3 linked regions of the Homo sapiens genome follow. The protein of the gene in region 2 interacts with the protein of the main gene of each other region in a pairwise test. Each region holds a gene or a part of one and is shown on either strand. Other genes may lie near its edges.

Region 1 (9,874 bases), on a different chromosome or scaffold from region 2:
CCCATCAGCCTCAAATGCCTGATCTGTAAAATGAGGACAATCAAAATATCTGCCTCTACAACAAATGCATTTTTCAACTAGAAAGCACCACGAAGATTATTATTGTTGACACCTGTGACGTGAGACGTGCCAGACAATGCATTTGTCCTTTAGTGGTCAGAGCCGATAACCAGGTGGCTGCACAGATTAAGAAGCAGACATCTGTGCAGACTTCTAACTGCCCAGTAAAGAGGTAAACCAGGGGCCACTCCTAACTCAGACTCACCCACTGTTAATATTTTGTCCCATTTGCTCTGTCATCCACTCCTTCCCCCCAACACAATTTTCCCCCACACCACTTAACTACTTAAGAGCAAATAACCTCAGTGTGTATTTCCAAGAATAAGGACATCCTTTAAGTACCAGAATAGTTGTGCCTTTTTTTTTTTTTTTTTTTTGTGATGGAGTTTCGCTCTTGTTGCCTAGGCTGGCATGCAATGGCGCAATTTCGGCTCACTGCAACCTCTGCCTCCCGTTCAAGCGATTCTCCTGCCTCAGTCTCCTGAGTAACTGGGATTACAGGCATGCGCCACAGTGCCCGGCTAATTTTGATATTTTTAGTAGAGATGGGGTTTCTCCATGTTGGTCAGGCTGGTCTCGAACTCCTGACCTCAGGTGATCCGCCCACTTTGGCATCCCAAAGTGCTGGGATTACACATGTGAGCCACCACACCCAGCCCAAGGTTGTGCAGTTTTTATTGGTCCAAACCAATTTCTGAGTTGAGTTCTACAGTTTGCATGCCCCTGACTCCGGCAATCCTAGTTCAAGGGCACCAGACTTCTGCAGCCAATGAATGCAATTAGGACTCAGAAGTCATGTCTTCACCCTGCCCCATAGCTGTGTGGATGTACAGAAGAGGAGCTCACATTTATTGGGCATTTACAATGTGCCAGTAAACGTGGCACTACTACTTGCTAAACCCTTTCCATCCATCAATTAACTCACATAATCCTCACATTTAACCCCATTTTACTGGTGAGGAAGTGAGGCTTAAAGAGAGCAGGTAACCTGCCAAGGTCAGGGAGCTGTATGTGGTGGAGGTGAATTAGAGTCTAGGTAGTCTGACTCCAAAGTCCACACACTTGGATACCGTCTCTTTACACATGCTGTCACCCACATCAAAAGCCCTTTTCATACATTTTTCTGCATGATGAAGTTGCCTAGCTGTGCTTTGGGCTTCAACAAAAACCAACCCTGCTGCCCAGGCCAGTATCCTGAAGAGGGCTGGATGAGACAGAGAAGTGATCCGGCACAACTCACAACTCAGTACAAGCAAAAGACAATCCAAGGTTACCACAACTGCTGATACTTTCCTTAAGTCCTCCTGTACATCCTGTTTGGAGATGTAGGGCCCAGAGAGGCTGAAAAGCCAACAAGGAGTCTCTCCGCACTCCTCTGTCACCTAAGACTGAACAGGGGGAACTCGCATTCCTCTGCCGGTACACATTTCTATTTAGAACACAAAGCAATAAACATGATGCATCTGGCCGAAGAATTGATTTGAAAGGAAGATATAAGAAAGGATTACATAATAAATTAAATTGAGGGTAAAGTCTCAATTAATTTTAGTCTGTCAATGAGTTTTTGGACAGAACCAACATTTAATGGCACTTCCTGCATCCAGTCTCCTAGGTGAGTTGGCCTTCATTCTGTTCTGCCATTAGACCTATGGCTGAAATGTCTGAGAAGCCTGGATATGAGGAACAATATGTCCAGGCCTCTCCCTTGAACTTTGAAGAAGCTGAGCTAATGCAGTATACACCTTTTTTTTCCTTTTTCTTTTTCTTTTTTTTTTTTAAGACACTGTTTCACTCTTGTCGCCCAGGCTGGAGTGCAATGGCGCAATCTCAGTTCACTGTAACCTCTGCCTCCTGGGTTCAAGTGATTCTCCTACCTCAGCCTCCCGAGTAGCTGGGATTACAGGCACGCACCACCATACCCAGCTAATTTTTGTATTTTTAGTAGAGATGAGGTTTCACCACATTGGCCAAGCTTGTCTTAAACTTCTGACCTCAGGTGATCTGCCCACCTCGGCCTCCCAAAGTGCTGGGATTACAAGCATGAGTCACCATGCCCAGCCCAGTATACAACTTTAGAGAAGTCACTTTACCCCTCTGAGCCCAAATTCCCGCACTAAAAAAATGCAATAATTATGGGACAAACCAGAGAATGTTCGTGAAATACTCTGTAAATGATAAAACATTAACTCAAAATATTTCTCATTTCAGAAAATTGAAAAGCAAATGTTTTGACAGCCATTTAAAAACAACAGGCAAATACAACCATATTCCTCCGTGTTTTTCCCTCTGCCAATATTTACTTAAGATACCTGCCAGTTTGCTGAGATGATGCTGTCTTACACTGAGCAAAGAGATTCAAACCTGTGCTGTCCTCTGAAGATAGAAAACAAGAGCAGGTACCTCACTGAATTGCCAAATATTCCACATATTGAGGCTGAAAAGCCAACAAGCAGTCTTCCTACAGCCCTCTGTCACCTCAGACTTAACGGGGGGGGTAAACTGGCATCTCCCTGCCCCTGCACACGTTTCTGTTTAAAGTGCTGTCTTAATTTTTTTCCAAAGTTCTCAATTTAGGAAGCACCAAATTTACTCCCATAGACATCAAAAGAGAATGGAGGCTGGGCCCGGTGGCCCACGCCTGTAATCCCAGCACTTCCAGGAGGCCAAGGTGGGCAGATTACTTGAGGTCAGGAGTTTGAGACCAGCCTGGCCAACATGGTGAAACCCCGTCTCTACTAAAGATACAAAAATTAGCCAGGCGTGGTGGTGGGTGTCTGTAATCCCAGCTACCCAGGAGGCTGAGGCAAGAGAATTGCTTGAACCCAGGAGGCAGAGGTTGCAGTGAGCTGAGATCATGCCACTGCAGTCTAGCCTAGGTGACAGAGCAAAACTCTGTCTCAAAACAAAAAAAGAAAGAGAGAGAGAGAGAATGGAGAGGGTGCCATCAAGGCACAAGAAACCTACACCCACCCTCATCACATGAAAACACCTCTTCCCAACCCAGCATCTGTCCTATCTCTAAAACACACTCCTCTCATGGGTAAAGAGCCTTAAAAAGCAACTTGCAACCATTTTTCTTAAAGACGTTTCCTTAAAGAAGTTTCTTTTTGGAGATGTGGTATAAATCATGGCTCCTAATCCTTCCTTTCGCTTTCTAAACAACACTCACTGTTTTTCCTTTCCCACAGAACCTAACGTTTAAATCCATGAACCAGTTTTTACCCTTGAAAATGCAACCAGGAAGTGAAATATAAAGCATGGGATTCTGCCAAAACTTGCCAAGCTGGGAAAACCTTTCTTAACCTTCAATGAGGGGGTTCAGAATTTCTATTTTAGTATATATGTAAGCTGCTAGTTTCCCAGAAATTCTTTGTGGGACTATTACCCCCAGGTTTGAAATAAAGTTTCTGGGACTGCTGTTCCCAGCAACATCTCAATAAGAAGGATGACAAATAAGGCTGGGCATGGTGGCTCATGCCTGTAATCCCAGCACTTTAGGAAGCCAAGGCGGGTGGACAGCCTGAGGTCAGGAGTTCAAGACCAGCCTGACCAACATGTGAAACCCCGTCTCTACTAAATTACCCGGGCATGGTGGTGGGCGCCTGTAACACCAGCTACAAGGGAAGCGGAGGTTGCAGTGAGCCGAGATCACACCACTGCACTCCAGCCTGGGCAACAAGAATGAAACTCCATCTAAAAAAAAAAAAAAAACGTCCAGGCACGGTGGCTCACACCTGTAATCCTAGCACTCTGGGAGGCCAAGGCAGGCGGATTGCCTGAGGTTAGGAGTTCAAGGCCAGCTTGGCTAACATGGTGAAACCCCATCTGTACTAAAAATACAAAAAAATAGCCAGGCATGGTGGCGCATGCCTGTAGTCCCAGCTACTCAGGAGGCTGAGGTGGAAGAATCGCTTGAACCCGGGAAGCAGAGGTGCAGTGAGCCGAGATGCCGCCACTGCACTCCAGCCTGGGTGACACAGCAAGACTCAGTCTCAAAAAAAAAAAAAAAGGAAGATGATATATAAGTGAATCAATAGGTTTGACATTCTACAAGATAAATTTCACTGCCATGAAGTTCAACATTTATCTAGGGAGGAAAATATAGAAGACAGGACAGACTCCTTCCTAGGGGTGGCCCAGAAGACTGTCGGTTGGGTGAGGTCATAATTAAGGGCAGCCTCCTGGGCTGTCCAGTATTCACTGGCTTTCCTAAGGGCCTTCTAGGCCTGGTGTCTACAAAATCCCCAACTGAACATCTGTCACATTTGGTTCATCCTTCACTCTCCAACTCCCTTTGATTTCAGACTAAAAAATGGGTTGCTGAATACAAAACACACACCCTTGATACTTGGCATTATCTCCAGAGGTAACCTTCTGAAGGACTCATGCCTGGTCCCCACTCCCTGCCTCGGAGGACCAGGTTCTTAACTGCCCACTCCCAGCCTCCTGGAGCCCTAAGCCCTGCCTGGGCTCCCTGCTCCTCCCTGCTGCCCAGGGGGGCATGGATACAGGTGCTTGTGCTCTATGGTGTCTTGGAGTGGGGCATGGTGGTGGCAACTCCTAGCATATGAGGTAAATGCACTGATATTCACATTTAAAACATTATATTCTACAATATAGAAATAACTATAAAATTTATGCTAATAATTTAAACTTAATTTTTCTTTATGTAGAATTACATTAAATAGAAAAAAAAATTTTTTTTTTGAGACAGAGTTTTACTCTTGTTGCCTAGGCTGGAGTGCAATGGTGCAATCTTGGCTCACCGCAACCTTCACCTCCTGGGTTCAAGCGTTCCTCCTGGCTCAGCCTCCCAAGTAGCTGGGATTACAGGCACTCGCCACCATGCCCATAAATAGCAATTTTATTTTTTTTTAAATGACAAGTCAAGGGAAAAACTACAGAAGAACAAAATTTTACATTTTAGGATCTCTAAAGATGCTTTTTTTTTTTTTTTTTGAGACAGAGTCTCATTCTGTCGCCCAGGCTGGAGTGCAGTGGCGTGAGCTCAGTTCACGGCAACCTCCGCTTCCCAAGCTCAAGTGATCCTCCCACCTCAGCCTCCCTAATAGCTGGGACTATGGCCATGCACCATCACACCCGGCTAAGTTTTGTATTTTTTGTAAAGATAGGGTTTTACCATGTTGCCCAGGCTAGTCTCAAATTCCTGAGCCCAAGCAATCCTCCTGCTTTGGCCATTCAAAGTGCTGGGATTACTGGGTGTGAACCACCACGCCCGGCCTAAAGATATTCAGTTGGTGCAAAAGTAATTGCAGTTTTTACCATTAAAAGTAATAGCACTAACCGCAATTACATTTGCACCAAGCTAATACTTTTTCCTTCTTTTTCAATAAGGAGCCTTGCATTTTCATTTTACACTGAGGCTCTGCAAATTATGTAGCCAGTCCTGCCCCTAGGACCTGCTTCAGGTCCTAGGGGAGGGGAAAGTTAGCCTTACTCCAAGCCTCAGAAATGTCTTTCCCAGAGTCTAGCTGTCCTCACTTGGGGACAGGCACCCACAAGAAGAAAGTACCTACACAGGGTGGCTCCACACAACCCCAAAGCTAAAACTGAGAAACCTGAAGCTAGAAAGGGTCTTGTGCAATCAGCTGGTTCCTGCCAGCACCCTTGTGCCAAGTCACAGATGATGCCAAGGGCCCAGCAGCCAGGGAAGGAAGACAGCCTAGTCCAGTAGCCAACAGGTATCCCAGTCCCAGATGCAGAGCAATAAGGATATGAAATGAAGACGCAGAGGAGGCCGTTTGAGCCTCCACCAGCCAGCTTCCTGCTTTGAGCATTGTTCTCAACAGCAAGCGACTGTATCCAAGAAGCCTGGGTCTAGGCACCAGCCTTGACAGGCCTGTTCCTGGCTGTTGAGCTTCTCTCACCTTGCTTATTCTCCTCCACCCCAATCTCCTTCCCAGTAAGGAGTTTTCCAAGACCTGGAATACCTAGAAAACTCATTGGGTCTCTTTAAAACACTGATTCCTCAAGAGATGCCAAGTGCCTACTCAGCTCCCAGCCCTGGGCTGGGTGCCTAAGTCACAGAAGTGGGGAATAAGATGCCTGCCTTCAAGGAACAGCCTTGGCACAGGCAAGGTGGCTGAGCCCCTCTTCTCTGCCATCTCCTCATTGCCTCATGACCTATTTAATGCCTGCTGTAGGGGGAACGGAATTCACAAGGTTCCATGAAACCCCTGAAGAGCAGCCCAGTGTAATACTCTAACTCCCATGGCCTCTTCTAGAAACTTCTCCCTCATAGGTCCCATGTTTGAAAAAGCTGTGTCTGCCAAATTGTATTTACTAATAATCAATGTCTTCAATTTCTTACTAATCAGAGACATGTACCACCCCTAATCAACATAGGAGACCAGGGGGTACTGCCCTTCCAAAGTACCTCAATCCCCAGAAAAAGCAAAGATGGAGTCTGGCCCCATAAGCCTTGGGGAAGCCTAACTCAGAGCAATGGCATATGGGCATTCATCTCCTTCAAGATGCATGGCCTGGGGTAGGAGCTACCACTACTACTGTGGCTATCACATGAGGGACCAAAGACCTATGTTCCAGTCCCAGCTCTAACACTTCAGCAAAATCATTGAACCTTCATGGACCTGAGTTTCATCATCTGAAGAATGGGGATGATTCTTCCCCTCCTGCCTCCAGGGGCTGCTATAAGGATCAAATAAGAAAAGACACAAGAAAAAAAACCATCTGCTATAGGAATGTCCAGGATTACGGCAAGATTCTATGTCTGTAAAACGAAACTAGTAGTAGTTCCTACCTCATCAAACTATTGTGAGAATTAAATCAATGACAGTTACAGAACAGTTCCTAGCATTTTTCAAAGACCCAAAAAGATTAGGCTGTTATATAATTATTACTACTATTATTGCTACTTCTGTTAATGACACTATTATCACAATTACTATTATACCTTGCTACCCAGCTAAGGGATTCATAGTAGAGAAGTGCTAGAGTACAAAAAGTCTTCGTTTTATTTATTTATTTATTTATTTATTTACAGACAGGGTCTCACTCTGTCATCCAGGCTGGAGTACAGTATCACAATCATAGCTCATGGTAAACTCAGACTCCTGGGCTCAAGCAATCCTCACACTTAAGCCTCTCAAGTTGCTAGGATTACAGGAGCATACCACCATTAATTTTTTCATTTTTTGTACAGATGAGGCCTCTCCGTGTTGCCCAGGCTGATCTTGAACTCCTGGCCTCAAGTGATCCCCTCGCCTCCGCCTCCCAAAGTGTGGAATTGCAGGCATGAGCCACTATACCCAGCCAAAAAATCTTTTTAAAGGGGTTATCAACATCACTTAGTCTAGAACTGGGAGAACCAACAGTAGATTTCTTATACATTTTGTCCCTCATTAATGCAAAATTGAACAAAAAGTGCAGAAATCAAAACAAAAATTCACCTGCCTAACCTCAAGCTTTTCTGCTTCAAGAAATGGACTCCGAGGCCAGGCACAGTGGCTCATGCCTGTAATCCGAGCACTTTGGGAGGCTGAGGCAGGCGGATCACTTCAGGTCAGGAGTTTGAGACCAGCCTGGCCAACATGGTGAAACCCTGTCTCTACTAAAAATGCAAAAATTAGCCAGTCATGGTTGTGCACACCTGTAGTCCCAGCTACTTAGGGGGTGGCCGAGGCATGAGAATCACTTGAACCCAAGAGGCAGAGGTTGCAGTGAGCTGAGATCGTGCCACTGCACTCCAGCCTGGGCGACAGAGCAAAGCTGTCTTTAAAAAAAAAAAGAAAGAAAAAGAAAAGAAAGAAAAGAAATGGACTCTGGAGAGTATTAAAACATTTGCTGGCCAGGCATGGTGGCCTGCATTTGTAGTTCCAGCTACTTGGGAGGCTGAAGTGAGAGGATCACTTGGCCCCAGGAGTTCAAGGCTGCAGTGAGCTATGATTGCACCACTGCACTCCAGACTAGGAGACAGAGGAAGATTCTGTTTCTTAAAATTTTTTCAAAAATTAAAATGTTTTAATCTGCTAAATATGAGGAGCAACTGAATACATCCTGTAAAACCTCACACAACTTTCCTGTGCAAGGAGCCATTAGGAAAAATAAAATCAGCCATGTCAATGCTTTGTCGCTCTCACTTTATGAGCCAGATTAGAGGAGGCTCCTGCCCTCAACACAAAAATCAAACATTCAGAAATGCTCACGGCAAAGCTAAGAAATCAGACAACAGTAAAACATTTTTCATGTGGGGGGCGGGGGATGAGGGAGAGAACAATTACTCCCAAAACCCTTAAGTCTCTCAAAAAATTGTCACAGAAGGACGTCAGAAGTACAATCACCTGCCACAGGGCCCTGCCTTTGAGGGTAGGGAACACTGTCACACATTGCTTTTTCTAGGCCTGGGAGGAGTCAGCCAAGGCCCTGGGGGCACAGGAGCTCACTGTAGGAAAATCATTAGGGACCTCACAGACAAGTTACCATGGAAGAGTCAGCAAAGGTGTGGAAGGCTGTGCTCCAGCCTCCAGAGTCCCACACGCGGCCTCACACACCCAGCCCAAGGCTGCACCTGGTACTTTGGGACACTTGCAGCCCTTCCTCCCGCCAAATGAATGATGGGCCCTGCCCCTGGGTGACGCTAGTGAGATGCAGGCCATGGATCCCATCCCTCTCACCTTCTTAGAAACACTGCTCCAGCAACTGCCCCGTCTCTTTACTGCAGCATCGACTTCTTCCTCTCAGTGGGATCATTCCCATCAAAACAAACATGCTGTACAATCTCCCACCAAAAAAAAGAACCCTCCCTCAAACCCACATCCTCTCCAATTACCGGCTAATGTCTCAACTCCACTTTGCAACAAAACTACCTGGAAGATTTGCCTAACTGACTCCCTGTCTTCACCCCGTGTTTTATCTTCCACCTACTCCAGTCAGATTTTGTCCTTTAAGGCTTCTGTGACCATGCATTCTCCTGGGGTTTCTCCTACCTTCTCAGTCCTTCTCAGTCTCCTTGCTGGCTTCACCTCTCACCCCTCTAAACACTGCTTTGACCATCCAAAGCCTCAGAACATCTCTCTTCTGTCTGTACTCTCTTCCTAGGGGATTTCATCTAATCCCATGGCCTTGAATAACATCTATTATACCCAATGGGTCTCTTCTGTCCTCTCTCCCCACCAAGCTTCAGATCACACTATCTGACATACTCATATCTCAAATGTAAGATGGCAAAACAAGATCTCATGATTCTCCTCCACCCCAAACCGGCTCTTCCCATCTCAACGATATGAATGCTATCCACTCAGGTGCCCAAGCCCTGAGGAGTCATCTTTGCCTCTTCTCTTTCTCCCACAGACTATTCAGTCCATCATGAAGGTGTGAAGAGCCTATTTCCTAAACACAGCCTGAATGTGACCACTACTCCCTGTCTACTGTGCTACCACCCTCAGGCAAGCCACTTCTAACTCCTGCCTGGAAGAGGGCAACAGCCTCAGCTGCTCTCCTGCCTCCCCCTGCAGTGGCCACCTACAATCCAATCTCCTCACAGTGATCGTTCTAAAAACACACACCAAATCATGCCATTTCCCTGCTTAAAACCCTCCAATGACGTTTCACTGGGCTTAGAATAAAGTATGAAAATTCCTCACCCCGGCTCACAAAGCTTTGCGGCATTTACCTTTCTCCTACCTGTGACCTCTCCTCATGCCACTTTCTCCCTTGTGCACCACATTCCAGCCTTCCTGCTCCTTAAACTCCAAGCTCTTTTCTGCCTTAAGCCCTTGCCCTGGCTGTTCGCTCTTCCCGAAATGCTTTGCCAACTCATCATCACATGATGTCT
Region 2 (6,016 bases):
TAGTGATGCCTCTTGCCTCAGGGAAACGTTTCTTTGATGGGGAGTTTGAGATTTCTTTTCCTTGTTTATGCTTTATTTGTGGTAATGAAAGAGCGAATGACTGAACAGCCATGGCAAGGCAGACCTACAGGCGAGGCCGCAGCAGAGGGTGGGGCAGAGCAGCCTCGGGGTCTGGGGGCTGCAGGGGTTTCCCTGGCGCAGCGAAAGTCTCTGAGCACTTACCGGGCGTGACCGTTTCTTAGGTGTGAGAGGGGCTGTGGCTTTTGTGCAGCGACTATGTTGGTGTTAGGGGTGGTGTGGAGATTGTTAATCTTGTATAAAGCAATTCAATAAATTGTTTCAAGGTTTCCAAAACATTTTTTCTCACTCTTTTCTTTCTACCATGTGGAAGTAAGTAGTTCTTCCTGTAGGAGCTGTTACAGATGGAATATCCATTTTGGCTGAAAGCCAAGGGGGGGGGGCGGGGGAGTAAGCCTTGCATGCAAAAGAAGAAACATGTGGACCGTACAAGCAGACTCCAGCCACCAGGTTTATTTTCATGCTATAAATAAATTTCCCTATTAGTTCCCATTTTCTTATGTTCTACATGAGATACAGAGACCCAGATATTGGCGTGGTGAATAATCAACTGTTTTGTATACCTAAATACCAGTGAGATAATAAGCGAGACTTGTAAAGCACTGAAACTAAGGCTAACAGCAGCACAATCCACTATCAAAGGATTTAAATGCCAGAACTGTGAAACATTCTCTGTAGGTGCCGGGACAGTCTGGTGGCTGACAATTAACGTCCACTCCAGCACCGAGGGCTGGACACTTGTGGTTTCTGTTCACCTTTCCTGGCTTGGAGCCCAGATCTGTCTCATGAGCAGAGTAACTACTGAGGAGGCTTCTCGGATGGAAAGTTGGTTTTAAGCCAGAAATCTGGAGAGATGTCATGCCAGGCAGCAGCCCCCACGGGCCCAGGCCTTTGTGGGGCAGTGTCACTGTCTGGTGTGCCACCAGTACCCATGCTGCAAGGAGTGGGCTTGGCTGCTGTGGTTGGCTTGTCCTTCAGTGGTTTTCAGATTGTGTGCAGTTATCATGAGGAGTTTGTTGCTGGGAGTGTACAGGAAAAGGGAGGAAAAGGCATCGCAGTTGTCCAGTCATTGGAGGATGAAGTACGTCACTCAGGGTGAATGATGGTTGGGACGAGAGTTGCCTGTCTTCAGCCAGTGCCTGTCTCATATGTGGGCGGGACTCTGAGCAGCCTGGCAGCGAGGGTATGTATAAAATGCTTGGCCTGCACCAGGGCAAGGGAGAGGACGACACCAAGGAGGTCACTGCGTCGTAGGAGAGGGCCAGCGTCTGCCGTTACGAAGAGTTGCAAGAGCTGTGCCTACTTCTGCCCAGATACCAAGACCGCCAGCTCCTGGATGGACATATCCTTGTTGACATAGCGGTCATACTGAGCAGGGGTCAGCCTGCCACTCTGCAGGGCCTCTTCGATGGAGAACTTCTTGCCAGACTTCCTGTCGTGTATCACTGAGGACTCCCCATTGGGACCCTTCACTGAGATCTCCTCCCAGTCGCACTCCTGGCTTCTGAGTTTCACGAACATGTTCCAGTCAATGAGCCCGGCACGGTGGGCTTCCTCCGGGGACAGCTCGCGGCCTGTGTCAGGGTGGATGACTACGATGGAGCGCCGCAGGTGGTTCTCCCGCTGCTCCCGCTTGACGGCCACGGAGCCCAGGCGCTTCTGCAGCTCGTCGATCTCGAGGTCTTTGTCCTTGGAGAGCCTCTTGAGGTCATCCAGTTCCCTCTCCAGGGACCACAGTCTGGAGTCATGGTTGGTCCCAGAGTCCGCCACGGTCATGTTCCGCAGGTCTCGTGTTTCCGTCGCTGCCATGTTGATTTCCGATTGGAGCCTTCGGGTCTCCAGCTGCAGGTTTTGCCTCTCCAGCTGTAATTTGTGGTTCTCTTCCCTCAGAAAGTCTAGTTCCTTGGATGACTTGGAGTTATGGAATTCCAGCTCCGAAAGCCTGGCTTCCAGCCGGCTCACCTCGACGTCCAGCTCGCGCTTGCTGCGGCTCTCCTCCTCCAGGCTGCTCTTGAGCCTCTGGATCTCTTGCTCGGTGTCGCCCTTCTCCACCTGGACACTCTCGGAGAGCACCACCTTCTCCTTGACCTCCGCCTTCTCCAGTGCAGCCAGTTTCCTCCGGAGGGTCTCGAGCTCCCCCTCCAGGAGCTGCCGCCGGTGCTGCTCTTCTTCCAGCTGGAGTCGGAGCAGGGCATGCTCTCGCGCCTGCTGCGGGTCCTGCTGCAGCACCACCTTCTGCGTATGGGTTACCTTCTCACGGGCCTCAGCTTCTTCCTGCTCCAGCGCTGCCAGCCGCTGCTGCAACCGCTGTACCTCGCGCTCGGCCTCCCTGCGGGCCTGCCGCTCGCGCTCTAGCTCCTCCAGCTGCCGCTCAAGCTCGGTGCGCCGGCGCTGCAGCCGCCGCAGCTCTGCCCGCAGCTTGTCAATCTGCCGCAGCTCCACATCGATGCTCTCGGCAAAGGCGCTCGCCTCGGCCCGCAGGCCTGGCTCCTCCTCATACCTGACCACCTCCTGCTGCACCACCCTTTCCTTCACCCGCGAGAGCTCCTCCTCTTTCCGGGCGATCTGCTCTTCCTGGGAAGCTCTTTCCCTCTCCAGATCCACTTGTTTCTTCTGCTCCTCTGAGAGCTTTGCCCTCAGAGACGCCACCTCCTCCTTGGTTTGAGGGTCTTCTTGGAATTGGAGGATCTCCTGGACCACCTCTTTGGTCTGGACCTGGGGTTTGGTGTCTTTCAGGGCCTGGATTTCCTTTTTCAGCTGGTAGATCTCTAAATCACACCTTTCGATCAGTCTGGTCTTGTCCACGATCTCCTCCCTGAGCCGCTGAAGCTCCTTCTCCATCTCAGGGTCAGTCTTGTACTTAATGACTTCCTTAGTCACCTCTTTGACTTCCACCTGGGGGCCTCGCCTCCTGAGGGCCTCCAGCTCACTCTGGTAGCTCCGGAGCTGCTCCTCGGCACCCCGGTACTTTCGCTCCTGCTCCACAAGCTCCAGGCGGAGGTTCGCCACTTCACTTTCCGCCTTGGGGTCTGGCCGCACGATCTCCCGCACCTTCTCCTGCACCACCACTTTGGCGTTCTCCTCCTCCAAGGCCCATATCTTTCGGAGCAGCTCCGTCTTCTCCCTCTGGCTAGCGCGAGCCTTGGCAGCCTCGTCCTCATATTGGCGGGTGAGATCGCTGACCTCCCTCTCGGTGGCCGCGTCCTTCTCCACCTTGAGCACCTCCTTGACGGTGATCTTGCCCTCGGCCATGGCCCGCTCCTTCTCTAGCCTCTTGAGCTTGTCCTGGAGGAAGCTCAGCTCCTCCTCCTGCTTCTCCCTGAGCTGGTCCTGGCGCTGGTGGTCCTCCTGCAGCTGCTGGTACTCTGCCTCCAGCTGGGGGTCATTCTGCAGTTTCACCACCTCTTTCTCTGTGACCTTCTCCTGCGCCCGGCTCTTCTCTTCAGCCAGGGCGGCCACACGCTGCTGCAGGAGGAGCACCTCTGCCTCCCGGGCGCCCTTCTGCCGCCTCAGTGCCTCCAGCTCCTCCCGCAGCTGCAAGACCTCATCCGCCTGGGCCCTGTCAGGCTCGATGCGCAGGACCTCCTTGACCACGTACTCCTGCCCCCCGTCTCTGGTCTCCTGCTCCAGGGCACGCAGCTGCAGCTGCAGTGCCTCCAGCTCCTCCTGCAGCAGCTGGTTCTTGTGCTGCTCCTCTGCCAGCGTCCGCTGCAGCTGCTGGAAGCTCTCCTCCAGCACGGGATCCGGCACCTTCTTGAGCACCTCCTTCCTCACCACCGATTCCTGAGGCCCCTGATTCCTCAAGGTCCAGATTTCTTCCTGGGTGCTCTTGACCTCGTTCTCCAGCTGCCGCCTCCGCTCAGTCTCCTCATCCAGTTCCTTCCTGATCTTCCACGCCTCCTCCACTCCAGAGTCCGGCCTATTCCTTTGCAGGGTCTCATGGGTCACTTCTACTTCCGGCTGCTGTGATGGAGAAGACAAGACAAGGTTAAAGCCAGGCTCTGGCAGCACATGTAGGGCCTGTCCCCACCTGGTCAGAGTGGCTGTCCTGTGGTCCCCAAGGGACTCCCTCAGTGCCAGTTCATGTTAGTTGTAGAGTTCTAGGGTTACTTTCAAAAAGGATCAAACAACTAGTTTGGGGTTTTTTTTAATCAGGTAAAACATTTTTGAGCTGTGGAAGAGTTTAAAATGAAACCACGGTCTCCCACCTCTGGTCCCCGTCCTAGGGCGTGTCTGTCAGCCTTGCAGATGCTATCTGTGCTCACACAAGAATATCTGTCTGTAGTATGTACCATGTGTTTATCTCTCCTGCACAAATGGTATTCCTGCTGCTCACTGCACTTACAGAGCTCATTCCAGCTCAGCACAGAGAGTGCTGCTTCAGGATTTACCAGCAGCATTGTTTCCGCTCTCTGGACAGACCGCAGTTTAGCCCATTGCTGATGAAGAGTGAACTGCTTCCAGTGTCTTGCTATTAAAAAACAATGCTGTCATCAACATCATGGACTTCAGAAAATAACATTCACTTTCTTTTGTTTCTTTCTTTTTTTCTGAGACAGAGTCTCGCTCTGTTGCCCAGGCTGGAGTGCAGTGGCACAGTCTCAGCTCCCTGCAACCTCCACCTCCTGGGTTCAAGCAATTCTCCTGCCTCAGTCTCCTGAGTAGCTGGGATTACAAGCATGCGCCACGACGCCCAGCTAATTTTTGTATTTTTAGTAGAGACGGAGTTTTACCATGTTGGCCAGGCTGGTCTCGAACTCCTGACCTCAGGTGATCCGCCTGCCTCGGCCTCCCAAAGTGCTGGGATTACAAGCGTGAGCCACCATGCCCAGCTGAAAATAGCATTCACTTTCAGCAGATGTTTACTGAGTTGAATAAGTTCTCATGTCAGTAGAAGCATTGGCTCGGGCCAGTCTTTGCATTGGCCCTGCCCAGAAACGTTAGCAAGGGGACACTTCCATCAATTCACAAACCATTTCTCTAAGACAGAGTCTGTATTTGTCACCTGTTAGAACAGCCTGAAGTAGAATTTCTTACTAAGATCAGTTACCTGTCTGAGGAGATTCAGAGCAAACTCCAGATTCTGCAGCCTCTGTCTGTTGATGGCATAAACTTCAGTGAACTTGGCGGCAAGTGCTGCTTCCTGCAGAGAAGAGGATTAGGAGAGCGGTCAACAAACAGGTGTCAACAGGGTAAGCAACAGAGAGCTAGACAGCGTGGACGTGGTTCTTGAGAAGTGTGGAATTTGGGGGTAGAGGCATAGCTCTTGCCCACTCCTGCCTGGAGTTAGACTGTAGCCTCACCGGTGGAGAGAAAAATGGATCTCGAGGCAGAAGATCCAGGCCAGGGTCTTGGCCACACTGACTTTGAGCAAGTCTTTCTGCCTCTTAGAGCACCAGTGTTCTCTCTTGTGTGTACAGGAGACTAATATCAGCCCTCCACTGTACTTACTGAGGTGAGCAAAACAGGAACTTCCCAGATCCATGGTTCTGACCCTGACACTTCTGTTCAGCTGCATTTTCAAAAATTTTTATTTCTTAAAGACAGAATCTCTTTCACTCAGACTGAAGTGCCATGGTGTGATTGTAGCTCACTGCAGCCTTGAACTCCTGGGCCCAAGTGATCCTCCCTCCTCAACCTCCCAAGTAGCTGGGACTACAGGTTTGCACCACCACGCCTGGCTAATATTTTTGTAGATATGGGGTCCTGCTTTGTTGCCCAGGCTGGTCTCCAACCCCTGGGCTCAAGCAGTTCTCCCACCTCGGCCTCCCAAAGTGCTAGGATTACAGGTGTGAGCCACTGCGCCCGGCCTTGCTGTCTTTCTAGGCATATTGATGTCACTGCCCTAGAACAAGTTCCTCATCTCTTACCAAACCTGTTTGCATGCAGGAGGGCTCTCAGTGGCTTCCCTGTTGTGTGTGCATCTCTGAGGCCAGCG
Region 3 (6,070 bases), on a different chromosome or scaffold from region 2:
GGAAATCCTGGGGGAAGCCCCTCCTGGCAATGAATCCCAGACCTTTTCTCCCCTCCCTGGGACAGGGAGAGGAGTCGAAGTAGGTGAGAACCTACAGTGAGGGAGAGTTCTAGACCATTGTGAGGCTGCCTGGCCCCGACCCCAACCCCCGAGGCCCTGCCCAGACCCACAGAGTCCATCTCTTCCACCCTGGCTCTTCTTCGCTCAGATCCAGGGAAAATAAACTAACACGTAACAAACTAATAAGCACTGTTCCTGCATCACGTCCTGCAGTCCTTCACAGCAGCCCTTCAAGATAGGTATTATTGTTAGTGCCACTTCATCAAAGAGGAATCTGAAATTCAGGAAAGCTGAAGGGGGCCGGGCATGGTGGCTCATGCCTGTAATCCCAGTGTTTTGGGTGGCTGAGGCAGGAGGATCACTTGAGGCCAGGAGTTGAAGACCAGCCTGGGCAACATAGTGAGACTCCCCCCAACTCACTATGTTTAAATTTTTCAAAAAAAGAGTTTAAATCAGTTGGGAGTGGTGGTGTGTGCCTGCAGTCCCAGCTACTCAGGAGGCTGAGGCAGGAGGATTGCTTGCGCCCAGGAGGTGGAGGCTGCAGTGAGCCATGATTGTGCCACTGCACTCCAGCCTGGGCAACAGAATGAGACCCTGTCTCAAAAAAAAAAAAAAAAAAAAGGAAGGAAGGAAGGAAGGGAGAGGAGGGAGGAAGGAAGAGAGAGAGACAGAGAGGAGAGAAAGAAAGAGAGAGAGAGAGAGAAAGAAGAAAGAAGGAAAAGAACAAAAGAAAGAAAAGAAGGAAAGAAAAAAACAAAAAAGAAAGACAAAAAAGGAAGGAGGGAAGGAAGGAAGGAAGGAAGCAAGGAAGGAAAAAACTTAAGAGAGCCAGGTGTGGTAGCTCACACCTGTAATCCCAGAACTTTGGGACGCCAAGGTGGGAGGATTACTTGAAGCCAGCAGTTTGAGATCAGCCTGGGCCATATAGCGAGATGGTCTCTACCAAAAAATTTAGGCTAGGCGCAGTGGCTCATGCCTGTAATCCCAGCACTTTGGGAGGCTGAGGTAGGCAGATTACTTGAGTTCAGGAGTTTGAGACCAGCCTGACCAAAGTGGTGAAACCCCTTCTCTACTAAAAATACGAAAAAAAAAAAAAATTAGCTGGGTGTGGTGGTGCACACGTGTAGTTCCAGCTACTCAGGAGGCTGAGGCATGGAAATCGCTTGAACCTGAGAGGTGGAGGTTGCAGTAAGCTGAGATCTCACCACTGCATTCCAGACTGGGTGACAAGAGCGAAACTTCGACTCTAGCTGGGCATAGTGCCACATGCCTGTAGTCCCAGCTACTTAGGAGGCTGAAGTGGGAGGATCACTTGAGCCCAGGAGTTGAAGACTGCAGTGATCTATGATCACACCACTGCACTCCAGCCTGTGCAACATAGCAAGGCCCCATCTCTACAAAAATAAAGAAAATTAGCTGAACGTGGTGGCGCACACCTATAGTTCAGGGAGGCCAAGGCGGGAGGATCACTTGAGCCAGGAACGTGGAGGCTGCAGGGAGCTGTGATTGTGCCACTGCACTCTGGGCATCAGAGCAATACCCTGTCTCAAAAAAAGAAAGGAGAAATGAAAAAAAAAAAAAGAAAAACCAAAGAAGTTGCCCAAGGTTATGAACCTAGGGAAACCTAAGGAGGCAGAGAGTCAGGCACTCCAAGACAGGTCAGCCTCCTTGGAGGCTGCTGGGGCCAGGGGATCCCGGGGCTAGGGGCCTCCTGGGGCTACAGCTGCAGCTCTCGCCTCTTCCCCACTAGATGGGGTCCTTCTCCATTGCTGCTGACTCTTCCGCCTGGGACCGGAGCCCAGGCTGCCAGGGAGGGGCCAGCTCACCCACAGGGCCCGTCCTCAGCTGGCCGGGGGTGGGAGCCACGGCGGCTGGCCAGGCCTGGCAAGGGCACCGTGTGCCCGGGGAGCCTGGCCCACACCCAGCCCCGAGACAAGGGGCCCATTCAGGGCCCCCCGCCCCGCCCCCAAGCAGCCACCCGGATCCAGCCCGCAGAGGGGACACACTGGGAAGCCAGGGGTGGATCTTGGGCAACCACCAAAGACCTTATTGTTTCCCAGCCCCCCGCCCAGCACGTGGGCAGACGCCCCCCCACCCCCAATCCTCACTTGCCCCTTCCCAGGACCCGAACCGCTGGCTCCCTTCTCCAGCCTCTGTCTCAATTCCTCCGTCTCCCACGCTTTAAACCTCCCCAGTCTGCAAAAGATCTCAGGGGAGCCCTAAATGGCAGGCGCGACCCCTGAGTCTGAACACAAGCAACGAACGAGATGTCAACCTCCAAATTCAAGTTTCTTCAGAGTTTTTAATTATTATTATTATTTTAATAACAACCTGAATCCCAGAACTTCCAGATACTGTCCACACTCCCTCCCCTGGGCAGAGGAGAGGAGGCACCTCAAGGGAACAAGATGGGGGTGGGGTGTCTGCCGGGGAGCCTCCGACTCCCCCAAGCCGTCTACTGCTGGGGGGTCCCAGGAGGGAGGGTGGGGGTTGGTTCCCTCCCAGAGGGGGCTCCCTCTGACGCCCCGTCCTGAAGCCCTCCCTCCTCCATCAAGGCTGGGGATGATGAGGAGATGGGGCAGGGGCCGGGGGACCAGGCCATTACTGAGCCTTGAACTCCCACCCCGGGGACACGGGGACATTAAAGCTGCATAGGAAGAGGGGGCAGGCGGCTGACGCAAGGCCGGGCAGCCCCAAAGGCACATTGTAAGGGAAGGGAGGCTCAGACGGAGGGCCCATTGGGCGCAGGGGGCCCAAGCCGTGGGACCCCCGAGGAGGGCAGCTGAGCCAGCTGCTCCGGGCTGGCCAGGGCGCGCAGCAGCCCATTCTCCTGCTCCAGCGCAGCGTTCCGCTCCGCCAATTCCCGGATCTGCTCCTTCAGCACCTCCACCTCCTCCCGGACCGCAAACATGAGGTGGGACTTCACCAAGTCCTGGGGGCCCCGGGACAGGCACAGCGTCAACGGGGTGGGTGCCTCATCCCCTGCCCAGTGCCTTGAGGGCTGGGGTGGGAGACAGTCCCCAGTGTCCAGAGGATGAGGGACAAAGCAGGGAAGGGACAGGGGAAAAGGACGAGGGACAGAGGCAGAGTCAGGGCTCAAAGACAGAGATGGGGACCAGTAGCCAGACTAGAGGCTGGGCAAAGTCAAGGGTGGAGGTGGTGGCAGGAGGGGGCAGAGGATGCCCAGCAGCCCAGCAGGGAGAGGGACGGAGGAGCTGGGAGTTGGTGTTCCCTGGTAAGGAAGAGGACAGGGCTGGGGCAGAGGGATGGCTTAAGGGGGCCAGGACCTCCTGGGACCAAGATGGCTTCTCTTACCATGGCTTGCTCGATTTTGTTGTCAATGCCAACCAGGCTTCCGGAGCCACTGGAGAGACACAGGAAGGTGAGGGGAGGAGAGGAGAAGCCTTCCCAGGTGCTGGTTTCTTGGACCACAGCCTCCCGCCCACACCCCCCTGTACCTGTGACAGTAGAGAATGAGGGAGAGGAGGGTTTTGTCCATCCCCCTGCGGGTTGAAGGCCGCTGCCCAGGGCCTCCCAGGCCCCGGTGGGGCGGGGGCCCAGATGTCCCTCGGATGGGGGATGCACCCCGGGGAGAGCAAGGGGAAGAGGCACAGCCCCTTTTTCGGGGCAGCCCCGGAGCCATCCCCACCACTCGGGTCTCATAAGACGACACCAGGGACTTGACAGAGACCCCTGGCTGGGCCATGCCCAAGGGGAAAGGGTCCTTAGACACCCCCCCAATGGAGAGGGATGCAGTGAAGGGAATGCCTGGGGGGCTCAGAGCCCCCCGGGCAGAGCAGGGTCTGGCTGGTGCCAGGCAGGCAGAGAGGAGACAGTGCCTCGGGGGTGCTGGCCTGAAAGATATACACCACCCCCCCAAGGGCAAGGCCTGGCTGCTATTGGCTCCTTGGGGACACGGGGACCCCCCCTCCTTTCAGCTCCTCGGTGGGCGGGAATTCCCAGACACGGTCAGTGCCAGTGTCCCCTTCTCACCCTGGCACCAATCCCAGAGTGGAGGGGAGGGGGCCGGCCGAGGAAGTCAGCTGGTGGCTGGGCCAGGGGAGGGGCGTGGGGCAGAAGCCTGGGTCTGAGCGGGGAGTGAAGGGTGTGAAGGGAGAGGAAGGGGCTGGCCTTCGGAGGCCCCTCGCCACCTCCGACCCCATTCTGTCCCCTCCGTCACTCAAGGCCTTGGGAAAGAGGGTGGAGGTGGCTGGGGTAGGGGGCGTTCTGACGTGCTCGTGGTCTTCCATAGATCATGAGCGCTCTCCCACCAAAAAACCCCACAAGGCTCACATCATGGGTGACCCCTGGGATCTGGCCAGAGGGTCCCTGAGTCTCCAGAGAAGACCAAAAATGGGAAAGGTTACCATGGCAACAGAAACTGAGCCCAAAGCCCTAGAAGATGAATACAGCGTAAAGGCCAGGCGTGGTGGCTCACACCTGTAATCCCAGCACTTTGGGAGGCCAAGGTGGGTGTATCACTTGAGGTCAGGAGTTTGAGACCAGCCTGGCCAACATGGAGAAACCCCATCTCTACTGAAAATACAAAAATTAGCCAGGCGTGGTGGAGGGTGCCAGCAATTCCAGCTACTCAGGAGGCTGAGGCAGGAGAATCGCTTGAACCCAGGAGGTGGAGGTTGCAGTGAGCCGAGATCGTGCTACTGCACTCCAGCCTGGACGACAGAGTGAGATCTTGTCTCAAAAAAAAGCCAGGTGTGGTGGCTCACGCTTGTAATCCCAGCACTTTGGGAGGCTGAGGCGAGTGGATCACCTGAGGTCAGAAGTTTGAGACCAGCCTGGCCAACATGGTGAAACCCTGGCTCTACTAAAAGTACAAAAAATTAGCTGGGCATGGTGGGGGGTGCCTGTAATCCTAGCTACTCTGGAGGCTGAGGCAGGAGAATCGCTTGAACCTGGGAGGCGGAGGTTGCAGTGAGCCGAGATCGTGCCACTGAATTCCAGCCTGGACAACAAGAGCAAAACTCTGTCTTAAAAAAAAAAAAAAAAAAATCGCCTATGGGCCTGGGACCTGGGTCTGGGGTCTCAGAGGAAGCGAGGGTTTGAGGAGAGGAAGGGAAGTGAGCTTGGAGAAGGGACACTGGGAAGAGGAGCAACAGGGCTTGGAAGAGGGCTGGGAGTCTGGGGTGACAGGGTCTGGCTGCAGTCTGGGAAGTGGCCACCAGAGGGCGACTCAGGCCTGGCTCAACAGCCCCCAGGGCCGGGCTCCAGGCTGGCTCCACGACGTTGGGCTCCTGGTCCCAGAACCTGGCTCTCCCTCAAGCCCCACTCTCAGGCCCCACCTGCGCAGGCCCTTGTGCTGACCTCATCCTCCAAGGCTCCCTCTCCCACCCCTCAGGCCCCAGGCTCTTGCCCTGAGGCTCCCGACCCACCCTTGCACCCCTGCACTCTGGCGCTGTGGCGGGATCCCCAGTCCTGCCCTCCAGCCCCCAGCTGGGCCCCCCTTGGAGCAGGGGCCTCAAGGCGCTGCAGCCCACATCCCTGGACTCCCTTGTAAGCCCTCCCTCCTGGCTGTCAGCTCAGACTTGCTTTCCTGCAGGGGGATCAGCACTCAATTCAAGGTGACCCCTGGATAAGGTCCTGCAGCCAGGAAGGGAGCACAAGGGAGCTGGGAATTTTCCATTTCTCATCCCAGCTCTGGGTGCAGAAGGCGCTGACAGGTGGAGCAACTAAGGAGGTGACTAGGCCTGAGCGAGCAGGATGGGGTGGGTGGGGGAAGGGCATCTGGGACTCTTGGGGTGGTGGGAGAGGAGAAGTTGAAGGGTGGAGGTGGGTCTGCCAGCAGGAGGGTCAAAGTAATTTTCGAGCTATTTCAATCAGCAACACCTGGGTGGAGATGGAGCCACCACAGAAAGCCCAATACTGCCACCACCCCATTAAACACTCACAGAGACCAAAGGGGTTGGATACACAGGGATAGGAACATGGGCCCTGCTGGGCAGAGACTCAGGGGTAAAGATGTCAAGTAAGGTGTTCATTCTCACCAGAGATA

Evidence for each region.
Region 1: the proteins of PPL (region 2) and PLEKHA7 interact in binary tests that used the Homo sapiens proteins (3 or more experiments, as listed by UniProt).
Region 3: the proteins of PPL (region 2) and TSC22D4 interact in binary tests that used the Homo sapiens proteins (3 or more experiments, as listed by UniProt).

Annotation. Positions count from the first base shown.
Region 1 is NC_000011.10:17,002,573-17,012,446, forward strand, and holds part of PLEKHA7 (pleckstrin homology domain-containing family A member 7), read right to left. Parts: intron 1-9,874. UniProt on the Homo sapiens protein: Required for zonula adherens biogenesis and maintenance. Acts via its interaction with CAMSAP3, which anchors microtubules at their minus-ends to zonula adherens, leading to the recruitment of KIFC3 kinesin to the junctional site.
Region 2 is NC_000016.10:4,882,007-4,888,022, forward strand, and holds the end of PPL (periplakin), read right to left. Parts: intron 5,222-6,016; coding exon 5,129-5,221; intron 4,042-5,128; coding exon 1,378-4,041; 3' UTR 501-1,377; downstream 1-500. UniProt on the Homo sapiens protein: Component of the cornified envelope of keratinocytes. May link the cornified envelope to desmosomes and intermediate filaments. May act as a localization signal in PKB/AKT-mediated signaling.
Region 3 is NC_000007.14:100,464,177-100,470,246, forward strand, and holds the end of TSC22D4 (TSC22 domain family protein 4), read right to left. Parts: intron 3,425-6,070; coding exon 3,376-3,424; intron 2,993-3,375; coding exon 2,783-2,992; 3' UTR 2,343-2,782; downstream 1-2,342. Other genes in the region: TSC22D4-C7ORF61 (uncharacterized protein LOC122198330), read right to left, coding at 3,376-3,424.